Regions from separate parts of the Homo sapiens genome. Here region 2 is linked to region 1. The links come from fine-mapping of genetic effects on gene expression. Tissue or cell type: regulatory T cells. Region 1 holds a variant in brackets; the other region holds the start of a gene. All regions are shown on one strand. Distances are between the middles of the regions.

What was found. PIP is the estimated chance that this variant, and not a neighbour inherited with it, causes the effect.
Region 2: DSCC1 starts here. The variant in region 1 is fine-mapped to the expression of DSCC1 in regulatory T cells (Bossini-Castillo 2019, PIP 0.92).

Annotation. Positions count from the first base shown.
Region 1 is chr8:119,792,275-119,797,274 of GRCh38, forward strand. It overlaps TAF2 (TATA-box binding protein associated factor 2), which reads right to left. Exons shown (of 26, transcript NM_003184.4): 8 at 4,716-4,829; 9 at 3,258-3,357; 10 at 1,092-1,177. Among named protein-coding and RNA genes, the nearest start is that of TAF2, 38 kb to the right of the region's middle. The variant T/TA (reference allele first, on the strand shown) is at 2,767.
Region 2 is chr8:119,853,944-119,859,516 of GRCh38, forward strand. It overlaps DSCC1 (DNA replication and sister chromatid cohesion 1), which reads right to left and starts at 1,951. Exons shown (of 9, transcript NM_024094.3): 1 at 1,671-1,951. The coding sequence starts at 1,852. LOC105375728 (a long non-coding RNA gene) reads left to right here. Exons shown (of 4, transcript XR_928590.3): 2 at 732-859; 3 at 1,463-1,936. RefSeq lists an enhancer at 1,623-1,932 and a silencer at 2,043-2,102.

The sequences.
Region 1 (5,000 bases):
TCTCAAGTAGTTGGGACCAGGCACCCACCACCACGCCTGGCTAATTTTTGTATTTTTTGGTAGAGATGTGGTTTTGCCATGTTGGTAGGCTGGTCTCAAACTCCTGAACTCTGGTGATCCACCTGCCCAGCGTCCCAAAGTGCTGGGATTACAGGCATGAGCCCCCGCGCTGGGCCAGAAGAATTTCTACATGATCACATACCTAGAAGAATTGCTGGATCTAAAAATTACCCATTCTACAATTCTGATTAGTACCACACTAAATTACCCATCAGAAACACTGTATCAAACTACACTCTCACAGTGTATGAGTGGTGCTATAGTTTGTTTGAATGATGGTGCCCCCTCCAAAATTCATGTTGAAACTTAAACCCCAACGCAACAGTCTTAAGAGGTGGCCTTTGGGAAGTGATTAAATCATCAGGGATCTACCCTCATGAATGGGATTAGCGCCCTCATAGAAAGGCTCCAGGTTGAAGGGAGCGTTCTCTTGCCCTGCCATCCCTTCCACCTTGTGAGGACACATTCTTTCCCGCTGGAGGATGCAGCAACTAGGTGCCAACTAGGTGCAGAGAGCAGCCCTCACCAGACACCAATCCTCCCAGTGCCTCAGTCTTGAACTTCCCAGCCTCCAGAACAAGAAGTAAATTTCTACTGTTTACATTATTACCCAGTCTGTGGTACTTTGGTATAGTAGAATAAACAAACTATGGCAAGTGGTATTATGCATCTCCTTCAAAATGTGGCATATTGGTTAAGGCAGGAGGATTGCTTGAGCCCAAGAGTTTGAGATCAGCCTGGGTAACAATGTGAGACCCCATTTAAAAAAAATTAAAAAAAAATTTTTAATGTGGCACATTAAAACTTCAGATACTTTATAATCAATCTGATATTTTAAAAATTATTTTTATATTTTACTTATTACTTCCAATCTTATGAGCTTTATGAGTCTGTAAGCTTTAGCAAAGAATAGCAATAAGAAAAAGGTTAAATAAATTCTGAGGTACAATGAAATACTATTTAGCTCTTAAATGGAATAATTGTTATATATAGTCAAGGTTTATAATATCATCTCTGAACAATAAACATACTTATCCTTCTCTTTTCCTCCACCAAATATGGGATGTAGTAAAACCCCACCAGTTTTTAGTTCATATGCCACTATTTTGTCTAGCTCCTAAAAAATATATAAAAATAGGAGTCAGTAAAATTTGTAAAGTAACATTTTTTTACATACCAAATTTTAGAATTAAACTGTGAATTCTCATTTCCTAAAATCAGAATGTAAATTTCTTAAAATAAGTGAAATGTATTTAAAGAGTAGTTTATGTTCTTATAAATAAAGCAGCCTACACAGCTGGCAGAATGACAAAAGCCAAAGACTTCTCTACTTTATGACTTCAGGGCTGGACAGCAGCCTGGCAACTTTTTCTTATGGCTGTTCTCAATCTCTCTGAGCTGTCTCCAAGTTTATTTTTCCTTCTCTGTATTTTGCTTCAAAAAATTTAGGCGAGTAAAAAGGAATGGGAATAAATTATGTCAGGAATCTATCATTTTAAAACTTCTCCAGTCTTCTCTAACATGACATAAATTGAACTTTTAAAAAGGGGGATTTTTTTTTTTAAACAGAAAAAAAAAGGGGGGGTTGGGGGCAGTTGTTTTGTTTTGTTTTGAGACAGGGTTTTACTCTGTCACCCAGGCTGGAGTTCAGTAGCTGATTATGGCTTACTGCAGCCTTGACTTCCTGGGCTTAGGTGATCCTCCCACCTCAGCCCAAGAAGCTGGAACTACAGGCACATGCCACCGTGCCTGGTTAATTAAAAGAAAAAAAGCATAAGTGAAGACGGGCGCAGTGGCTCACATCTGTAATCCCAGCACTTTGGGAGGCTGAGGCAAGTGGATCACGAGGTCAGAAGTTCGAGACCATCCTGGCCAACATGGTGAAATCCCGTCTCTACTAAAAATACAAAAAATTAGCCGGGCGTGATGGCGGGTGCCTGTAATCCCAGCTCTCAGGAGGCTAAGGTGGAAGAATCGCTTAAGCCCGGGAGGCAGAGGTTGCAGTGAGCCGAGATTGCGCCACTGCACTACAGCCTGAGCAACAGAGTGAGACTCCGTCTCAAAAAAAAAAAAAAGCATAAGTTAAAATAAAGACACTACCACAATTGTGCTGGAAACTCCTAACTGCTTTAAATAATACAGATGTAGTACAGAAAAGTGGCAAACAGCATAGAGAAGAAACTAAAAGCCAAGCTGGAATCCTGGGCCTACTACTTACTAGCTGTATACTTTGACCAAATAATTTAACCTTTCTTTCTGTTCCTCAGTTTCTTCATCTATAAAATGGGAATGATAGCAAGGTAGTTAGGAGAATTAAGATCATTTTAATATTTATAAAACATTTGTAACAGTGCGTGAAATATTTTAAGTGTTGTGTTACTTTGTTCTTCTTCTTTAATAGTTTCTGAAATAAAGAAGAGACTCCAGTTCTAGATGTACAAATACCTTAATAGCTCTAGGTGTTTGAAGTCTTCGAAAATTAACTTTTTGGCTTACTTGAGTTTACTCTTGGATGATAATAATATGTAAAATGAGAATACGGGGAAGATGATAAGGTTTGTTTAATGAAGATATGAAAGGCTGCAATTCTTCCACCTGAGAAGGAAGACACTAAGCATGATATGATTAAAATGTTTATGTATATGACCACAATGTGCTAAGTAAAATACAACTGATGTTTTCTTTTTGGCCAAATCTTTAAATCGT[T/TA]AAAAAAAAAAAAAAGATGTGACAATGACAACATAAATGCATTCAAAGCCTAGCCAGAATATAATAAGCAGTTAATATGTGCAAAGCATCATGCACATTACTTGTATAATGTCTAATAATCTCTGCCTATGGGCAGACACTACAATTGCCCTCCTTAAACAGAGACTTGGAAAGATTAAGGTTACAAAGCTAACAAATTTAGGAAGCACAGTTACAAACGACTACTATAAGGAGCTGGGACATACCTAACGACCAATCTGATGTTTAAGAAACTTAAATATTCTCTTCCTTAGGGGAAAAAAAGGTTTTTAGGGGCCAATGTTGACAATGGAGATTAGATAAAATAGACCATTAGTCTTTCTCAGTAAATCAATTCCCATTTTGCTGGGAAAAATTAGGGATTTTCAAGCAGTATTTTAAAAGTATTTTACAGTCATTAAAAATGGAGGACATAAGACTTGTAAGTGGATAAGGGATCTAGCTGTTATTACCTCTTTAATCCAATGGCGGTACTCATTAACACCAAAAGTTTTTTTCATCCAAAGTCCATAGATATAGCCTGAAATTCCCTTCAGCACCCATTCATCAGACCTAAGCAAAAAGTCAAAGCATAAATTACTTTTAATCATAAAAACTCCTCAGATAATGTCAAAGAGGATAACGGAATAAGTGTAGTGTGTATTTCCCTGCCTTCATAAAGAAAATGAAAATTATTAACAAATTATCAGGTTTCCCAACTTCCTCTGAGTTCTACTTGCCCATTTATTATACCTTATTCACACCTGCCTTTACCTTTCATTATGAGACTGCTTTACAGTCTTGCTTCAGGTATAAATTACCAGAGTACATGCTCTACTCTGACAGTGCTGCTTCCCTCCTGCCCAACTCTGTTCTTACTGTCTCTGCCTCTAAGGAAATACTTGCTCATAGCCAGGACTATACTGTTCAATTCTAAAAGTCTACATGCTATTATTGCCAATCCCATGCATTATGCCATTACCAATGATATTCTAAAACCTAAAGTTTAATTCCTTCATTCATTTTTTTTTGCTTTCTCTAGAAAAATGGCAATTAACATCACTCACTCATTTATTCATTTGTATACTCATCCATCTATCCATCTACCCACTCCATCCATCCATCCATCCATAATATTTTGCCTACTACATTCCAAGCACTATTCTTTAATGAAACTTCTACATGTGATTTTAGGAAAACTACAAATCAAGAGATCTATCTTTAGTCTCTGCCCTCTCCTCTCCACTCCAGCAAGCGAAAAAAGAAAACCAACATTTCCATACTATATATAGTATAGAATGTTCACAATTATAATCTTAATTTTTCTGTTTTCTTCAAAATAATCTCAAGTTAATAAAAAAGAAAAGAAAAAGCATATATACCTTTCATTTCTTTCAACAAACTGGTACAAAGCTGAGCACTAGTAGGCAAATCCCTAAATAATTATTAATATTGCAGAGGAGTACTATTTTACATTAAATATTGAGTTATTTCCAATTGCTTTGAACACTGACATTAAAATTCTAACTTCAGATTTCTGTACATTTAAGTTCTTTTATTTATAGAATTCATTCAGTTCTTTAAGACACTGTTTTACCAAAATCTTACCTTATAAACTGCAGAAGTGATTATATTGATTTCACGGCCAAAAAGTTAGGATAAAACTTATAATCATTTTTCTTTAAATACATATAGAACAGTGTCTTTTAAATTAGCTAATTTAATTAACTAATAAATATAAGTGACTATATTGATTTCATGGCCAAAAAGTTAGGATGAAACTTATAATCATTTTTCTTTAAATACATATAGAACAGTGTCTCTTAAATTAGCTATCTGCAATTAGGGCAAAGGTCAGCTTAAATGCAGAGAAAGAAAAGAAAAATAAACTTGATTCTCTTCTCAGTAGTATGAACTTTCAGGTCACTCACCAAGACATTCTAGATATGAAACAACCAAAAAACTGCTGGGCCAAGGATTGGGCTAAACACCTTCTAGTCAAAGGTGTCTCATCTATAATCATGGCACTGTGTAAAAGATTTGTGCTGGAATTTAAAAGAGAAGAAAGCTCATTATAACCAAGAAATAAATACTTATTCAGTGAAAATAAAATAATTCCACTTTTAAAACAATGGAAGCTAAATAGAGAAAAAATTCTCCCACCTTTCTAATCTTTTCAAAATTTAGCTAAAATTCATCATCTTAGTAACTTGCTT
Region 2 (5,573 bases), 62 kb after region 1:
TCATGCCTGTAATCCTAGCACTTTAGGAGGCTGAGGCCAGAAGATCGCTCGAGAGCAGGAGTTTGAGACCAGCCTGAGAAACATAGCAAGACCCCATCACTACAAAAGAAAAATTTAAAAGTTAGCTGGGTGTGATGATGCACACCTTAAGTCTCAGCTACTCAGGAGGCTGGTGGGAGGATCGCCTGACCCCAAGTAGTCATGGCACCATCATGCAGAGAGCCGTGATTGTGCCACTGCACTCCAGCCTGGCTGACAGAGTGAGACCCTGTTCCCACCACTCTCTCCCCAAAAAAAAGATAAAGAAAAAAGAAGGAAGAGGAAAGGATGAAGGTGAAGCGGAGGAAAAGGAAGGATTAAAGACAAAGATGATGGCAATGACAGGGGAGTTGGTTCTAGCAGTTTTCCTTGTCTGTAAAGCATTTAATTCTCCTGTGCACAACTCGTTTCTTTTGAATAAATAATAAGAAACCTGAAATAGCAGACTGTGTATTTATTTTTGACTAAGTCTTCATTTAAGTAAAAAGAATAAAAGGTTTTTTAGATTCCTAATGCTAATAATGCTTAATAGGCCCAAGTACCTAGTCTTTAACATTTATTTCTCTAACTGCACTACCCCCACTTTGAAATATTTTGTTTATACCATCACTCCCTACACCCCAAAATTAAAAACACACGTTTCCAGGGCCTGTTTTTATTTTTTTGTTTTTGTTTTGTTTTGTTTTTGCCAGCTAGATTAACTAGAACTGGACCGAGAGAAAGTCCTCACACCTGAGTTCCTTTCTCAACTCTCCACCAACTGAACCGGGATGGAAACAGACTAGTGAAGTTCTTTCAGTTCCCTTAAAGGTACTTTGAGGTATATAGCAGGTATCTGAAGAATGGCCAGTTTACTCTAACACTCTTTGGTGGGCAAAGTACGAAAACTGAAAGACAGCCTAAAGGATTCCATTAAGAAAAAAGAGAAAAAATAGCCTAATAAAATATAGGTGTCGGAGGACCAATTGTGCAAAAGAGAATCAAGCTGGAGCTCCCTATTTTGCAGGAGCTGGGGCTGCACAGGGTGGAGGGATATAACGATTCTCTAGACTTCTCAAGACTGCCTTTAAAAAACTACCTCAACTTCGACTTCTAATCAATGATCTTGCAGCAAGTTTGTATCTGACCTGGAATTAGAAACAGCTTCAGATCCCTACTAAGCAAGTTTGCTTCGGGGTGGGTAGGGGTCTCACCCAATTACCAAGTCTGTAAGCTGATTCCCAGCACTTCCTATCTATCATCTGAGTAAAATAAATATAAGTGGAAGGCAAGAGTTCTATAAACATTGGGTATCACCACTGTATTTTAAGGTAGAGTGACAGGTGTCCTGTAGAGTCCCTGTAATCACCGGTAACTCTTCAAAAACTTCACGGAGGTTGTATTAGTATTTCCTGACTTGCTCCCGCTGACACATGCCTCCAAGGTCAGCTGGACCAGTGCTACTCATCACCGCAGTGCAGCTAACTGGACGGCCCACCGGAGGCGTGGACTCCTCGGGAACAGGCAGCTTGCTATGAGCCCCCGGCCAGGTCAGTGCATCTCTCTGGCCCTGTTTTCTTATCCCGACTTTCCCCGCTGAGAAAATAACGTGGCCGGCCAGAGGCTGGGGGCGCCGCGTGACCAGGGCTCACCTGTGTCCATCCTCCAGCTGCTGGCACAGCGTGGGCTCCAGCTCCAGCAGGCAGAAGTCGCCGGCTGCAGCGCCGCTGGCCCCAGGGCCGAAGCCCAGGCAGTGCACCGCCGGCAGCAGCTCGGCCGCATTCAGCTTGGCGATCTGCAGCGTCGCATCCACCTCGTCGCGGGTCCTCTTCATCGCAGCGCCGGGTCTAGGAGTCCCGCCGCGCCCGGGTGGCTGCGGGCTTGGCGGGCAAGAAAGAAGTTCCCAAGCAGCCGGAAGGTAGGAAACCTGAGCGTTTGAAAGCGCGCCAAGGCGGCCATGGGCGTGTTTCCGGGGCGGAGCGCGCTGCGGGCCCGCCCGCGGGAAGGCCTGCCGGCTTCTGGGAGCGCGAGCCCCTCCGTGCCCCACGCCGGACCGCGACTGCAGGAAGGAAACGCGGCTTCCCGGGGGGCGGTCTCGGCGGAAGCTCGCAGGGGCAGAGCTGCGACTCGGCGGGTTGGGACACGGATCCCTCGCCCACCCTTTCCGCTGTCCCCTTGCCCGCCCCCCATCCCCGATCTCCGTCCCTGGTTTCCAGCCGATGCTCCCATTTCCTCGCCGTCCACATTGTCTCACCTTCCGCCAGTGGCGGGCCCTGTGATAACCACTTGGCATGTATAATTCCATGAGCCCGTTGCCACAACCCTGTAAGGTGGTGCCTTGGTCATTCCCTTTTGCCAATGAGGAAGCAGGCTCCTTGCTCGTGATGGCAGAGTCAGGAGGTAACAGAGTCTGACTCCAGCCTAGCCGACTGTGGCTCTAAAAGCTTCCTGCGGGGTTTTGTGCAAATAACCCATGCTCGGGAGCGAGGCCCTGGGAAGGAGTATCTCGCTTCTTTGGGTCAGGGCACCATCATATCTGGAGACAACGGCGGGACTAGTCTATTCGTTGAATACCTAGTGTTAACCGAAAAGTGACTGATGCAGGTCTCGTTCAATAGAGGTTTATTTAAGCAAGGTTGAGGACGCACCCGAAGGGAAAAACAAGTCACAGGAGCATCTGTGACTTGTACATTTTCCAAAGGTTTGGGGAACTTCAGTATTAAGAGTTTTAAGAGAAAAGGTTTTCACTATGCACACATACATGAATTGCTTGTAACAGCGTAATGTGTAAACTTTCCCAGAGATGCTTAGGGAATCGTTGAGGGCCCTGGCTGTCCCTGAGAGCTAAAATAGTCTGGGAGGAATCACTTAAGAGATGGTGACCTCCTACTAGTTAGTGCAAATCAGACCTTGCTTGAAGTGAAAGAAAGTGGTGGGTAAGGTGTTGAATTCAAAGGATCTGAGCAGACATTTTTTTCAATTCTTGGGTAAAATGATACGAAAATACCAGAGTAGGGCATCCCAGGAGTCTGGGCAGTGCTTTCGTTGGTGGTGGAAAGATTGGTTCATGTGACCTACTTCTTCACTAGCCTCTTTTACATTTGAATGCATAGGAATTCGGTGGAATGAAATCCTGAATGTGACAGTGGTTGCCTGATAAGAAGTTATTATTGAAGGGAATCAACCATTGTAGTTGCTCTATTAAATGGGAAACATTCCCTACAACTAGAAGCAGTGTCAACTAGAACCCTGACATTTACATCAGACAGGCATGGCTGCGAATCCCAACTCTCTTCAGAACTTTGTGACCTAAGGCAATTTACCTAATTTCTCTGAGTACAACTTCCTTATCGATAAAAAAGCACATAAGACCTACATTCTTAAGATGTACATTCTAAAATGCATGGCTGCTTAATAAATGGCAGCAGTTCTTTTTGTTTTTATGTATTAATCATTATGAATTTAATTTCCAATTAATGGTATGAAATTATTGCCATTAATTTGATATTCTGTCAGGGAGCTGGACCTGTGTTCCTCTCATAAGACAAAATGATGATAGTTTTTATTAATTCATTCTTTAAAATTATGTTAATATGTTTTTCTAAAGTAAGAAATTTTCTGTACCTTTTCAAAAAACGATTGAAGCTGGCTTAATCATTCATCTGGTAGCAGGAAAAAAATATTCTTTATCAGGTAAAAAAATGAACAGTTATAATAAATTTCAAAAGTTCTGTTCATGAGAACAGAATCAGCTAAAATTGATTCTGTTCTCTTGGACACTGTACTCTTGATTATATTGCTCATATATTGTGTTTCATGGCATGAAATGAGAATTTTATTTACTAAATCTTAGTTCATATTATAGAATCATGTATGAACTTTTTTCCTTTTCTTTTCCTCTCTTCTCTTCTTTTTTATTCAATAAAGAGCACAGTGACGGCCAGGTGCAGTGGCTCACGCCTGTAATGCCGACACTTTGGGAGGCCAAGGTGGGCAGATCACCTGAGGTCAGGAGTTCGAGACCAGCCTGGCCAACATGGCGAAACCCCGTCTCTACTAAAAGTACAAAAAAATTAGCCGGGCATGGTGGCAGGCGCCTGTAATCCCAGCTACTCTGGAGGCTGAGACAGGACAATCGCTTGAACCCAGGAGGCGGAGGTTGAAGTGAGCGGAGATCATGCCACTGCACTCCAGAGTGAGACTCTTGTCTCAAAAAAAAAAAAAAAAAAAAGGAACACAGTCACTTCCAGACATTCCAAAAACTGAAAATGTGGCCTTGCTTTCGGTCCTTATTCTTATTACTGTGACTTTCTAACAGATTTTCCTGCTTTTCATCCCCCTTCCCACTGCCCCTCCATCTGTATACCACAGTCAGATTAATTTTCTGAACATGAAGTTCTCTAGTGACATTACACTATGCTCACAGGTCATCATCAACCACTCCCTCTCCTGTCAAAGCTCATACTCAAACCTCTGCTGGTTTCTGGTTTTCTGTGCTTTGTGTCCGTTCTGCCTTTCCAGACTCCACGGCCCTGAGTACTCTTCACACACATGATAGCCAAACCTACAGATGGCCCCGTCCTTCCCTACTTTCGTGCTTGTGTGGCCAGGCATGTTTAATTTCAGCCATCATTTACACATTATTATTATTATTATTATTATTATTATTATTATTATTATTTGAAATGGAGTCTTGCTCTGTCACCCAGGCTGGAGTGCAGTGGCACGATCTCGGCTCACTTCTGCCTTCTGGGTTCAAGCGATTCTCATGCCTCAGCCTCCCGAGTAGCTGGAATTACAGGTGTGTGCCCCCATGCCCAGCTAATGTTTGTACGTTTAGTAAAGACGGGTTTTCGCCATGTTGGCCAGGCTGGTCCCGAACTCCTGACCTCAGGTGATGGTGATCTGCCCACCTTGGCCTCCTAAAGTGCTGGGATTACAGGTGTGAGTCACCGTGCCCAGCCCACATATAAATTAGAAAAGTTTTCATTAACATTTTCGTTTTTCGTCTTTTAAAAAAAATCAGGATATCTATCAACATGGGACTCATATTTCTGGATAGCAGCAGTAGGCTGGAGTTGCTAATTGTTTCTTCATAGTTCTCTTCAGGTCTGTGCCAGGCTCTCTCAATATGGAAACTTATATTATTCTTCAGTTCTGGGAAGTTTTATTATATGATTTCTTTGATAAGATCACCTCACCGCTACCCCATCCCAGATTTTTTTTTCTTTCTTTCCTTATTTTATTTCTTTTCTTTTTCTTTCTTTCTTTTCAGACAGGGTCTCACTCTGTTGCCCAGGCTTGAGTGCAGTGGCTCCATCTCAGCTCACTGTAACTTCTGCCTCCCAGGCTCAAGCTATCTTTTCACCTCAGCCTCCTAAGTAGCTGGGACTACAGGCACGGGAACCACCATGCCTGGCTAATTTTTGTATTTTTTTGTAGAGATGGGGTTTTGCCATGTTGGCCAGGCTGGTCTCGAACTCTGCGACTCAAGTGATCCACCTGCCTCAGCCTCCCCTAAGTGCAGGGATTACAGGCATGAGCTAGAGTGCCTG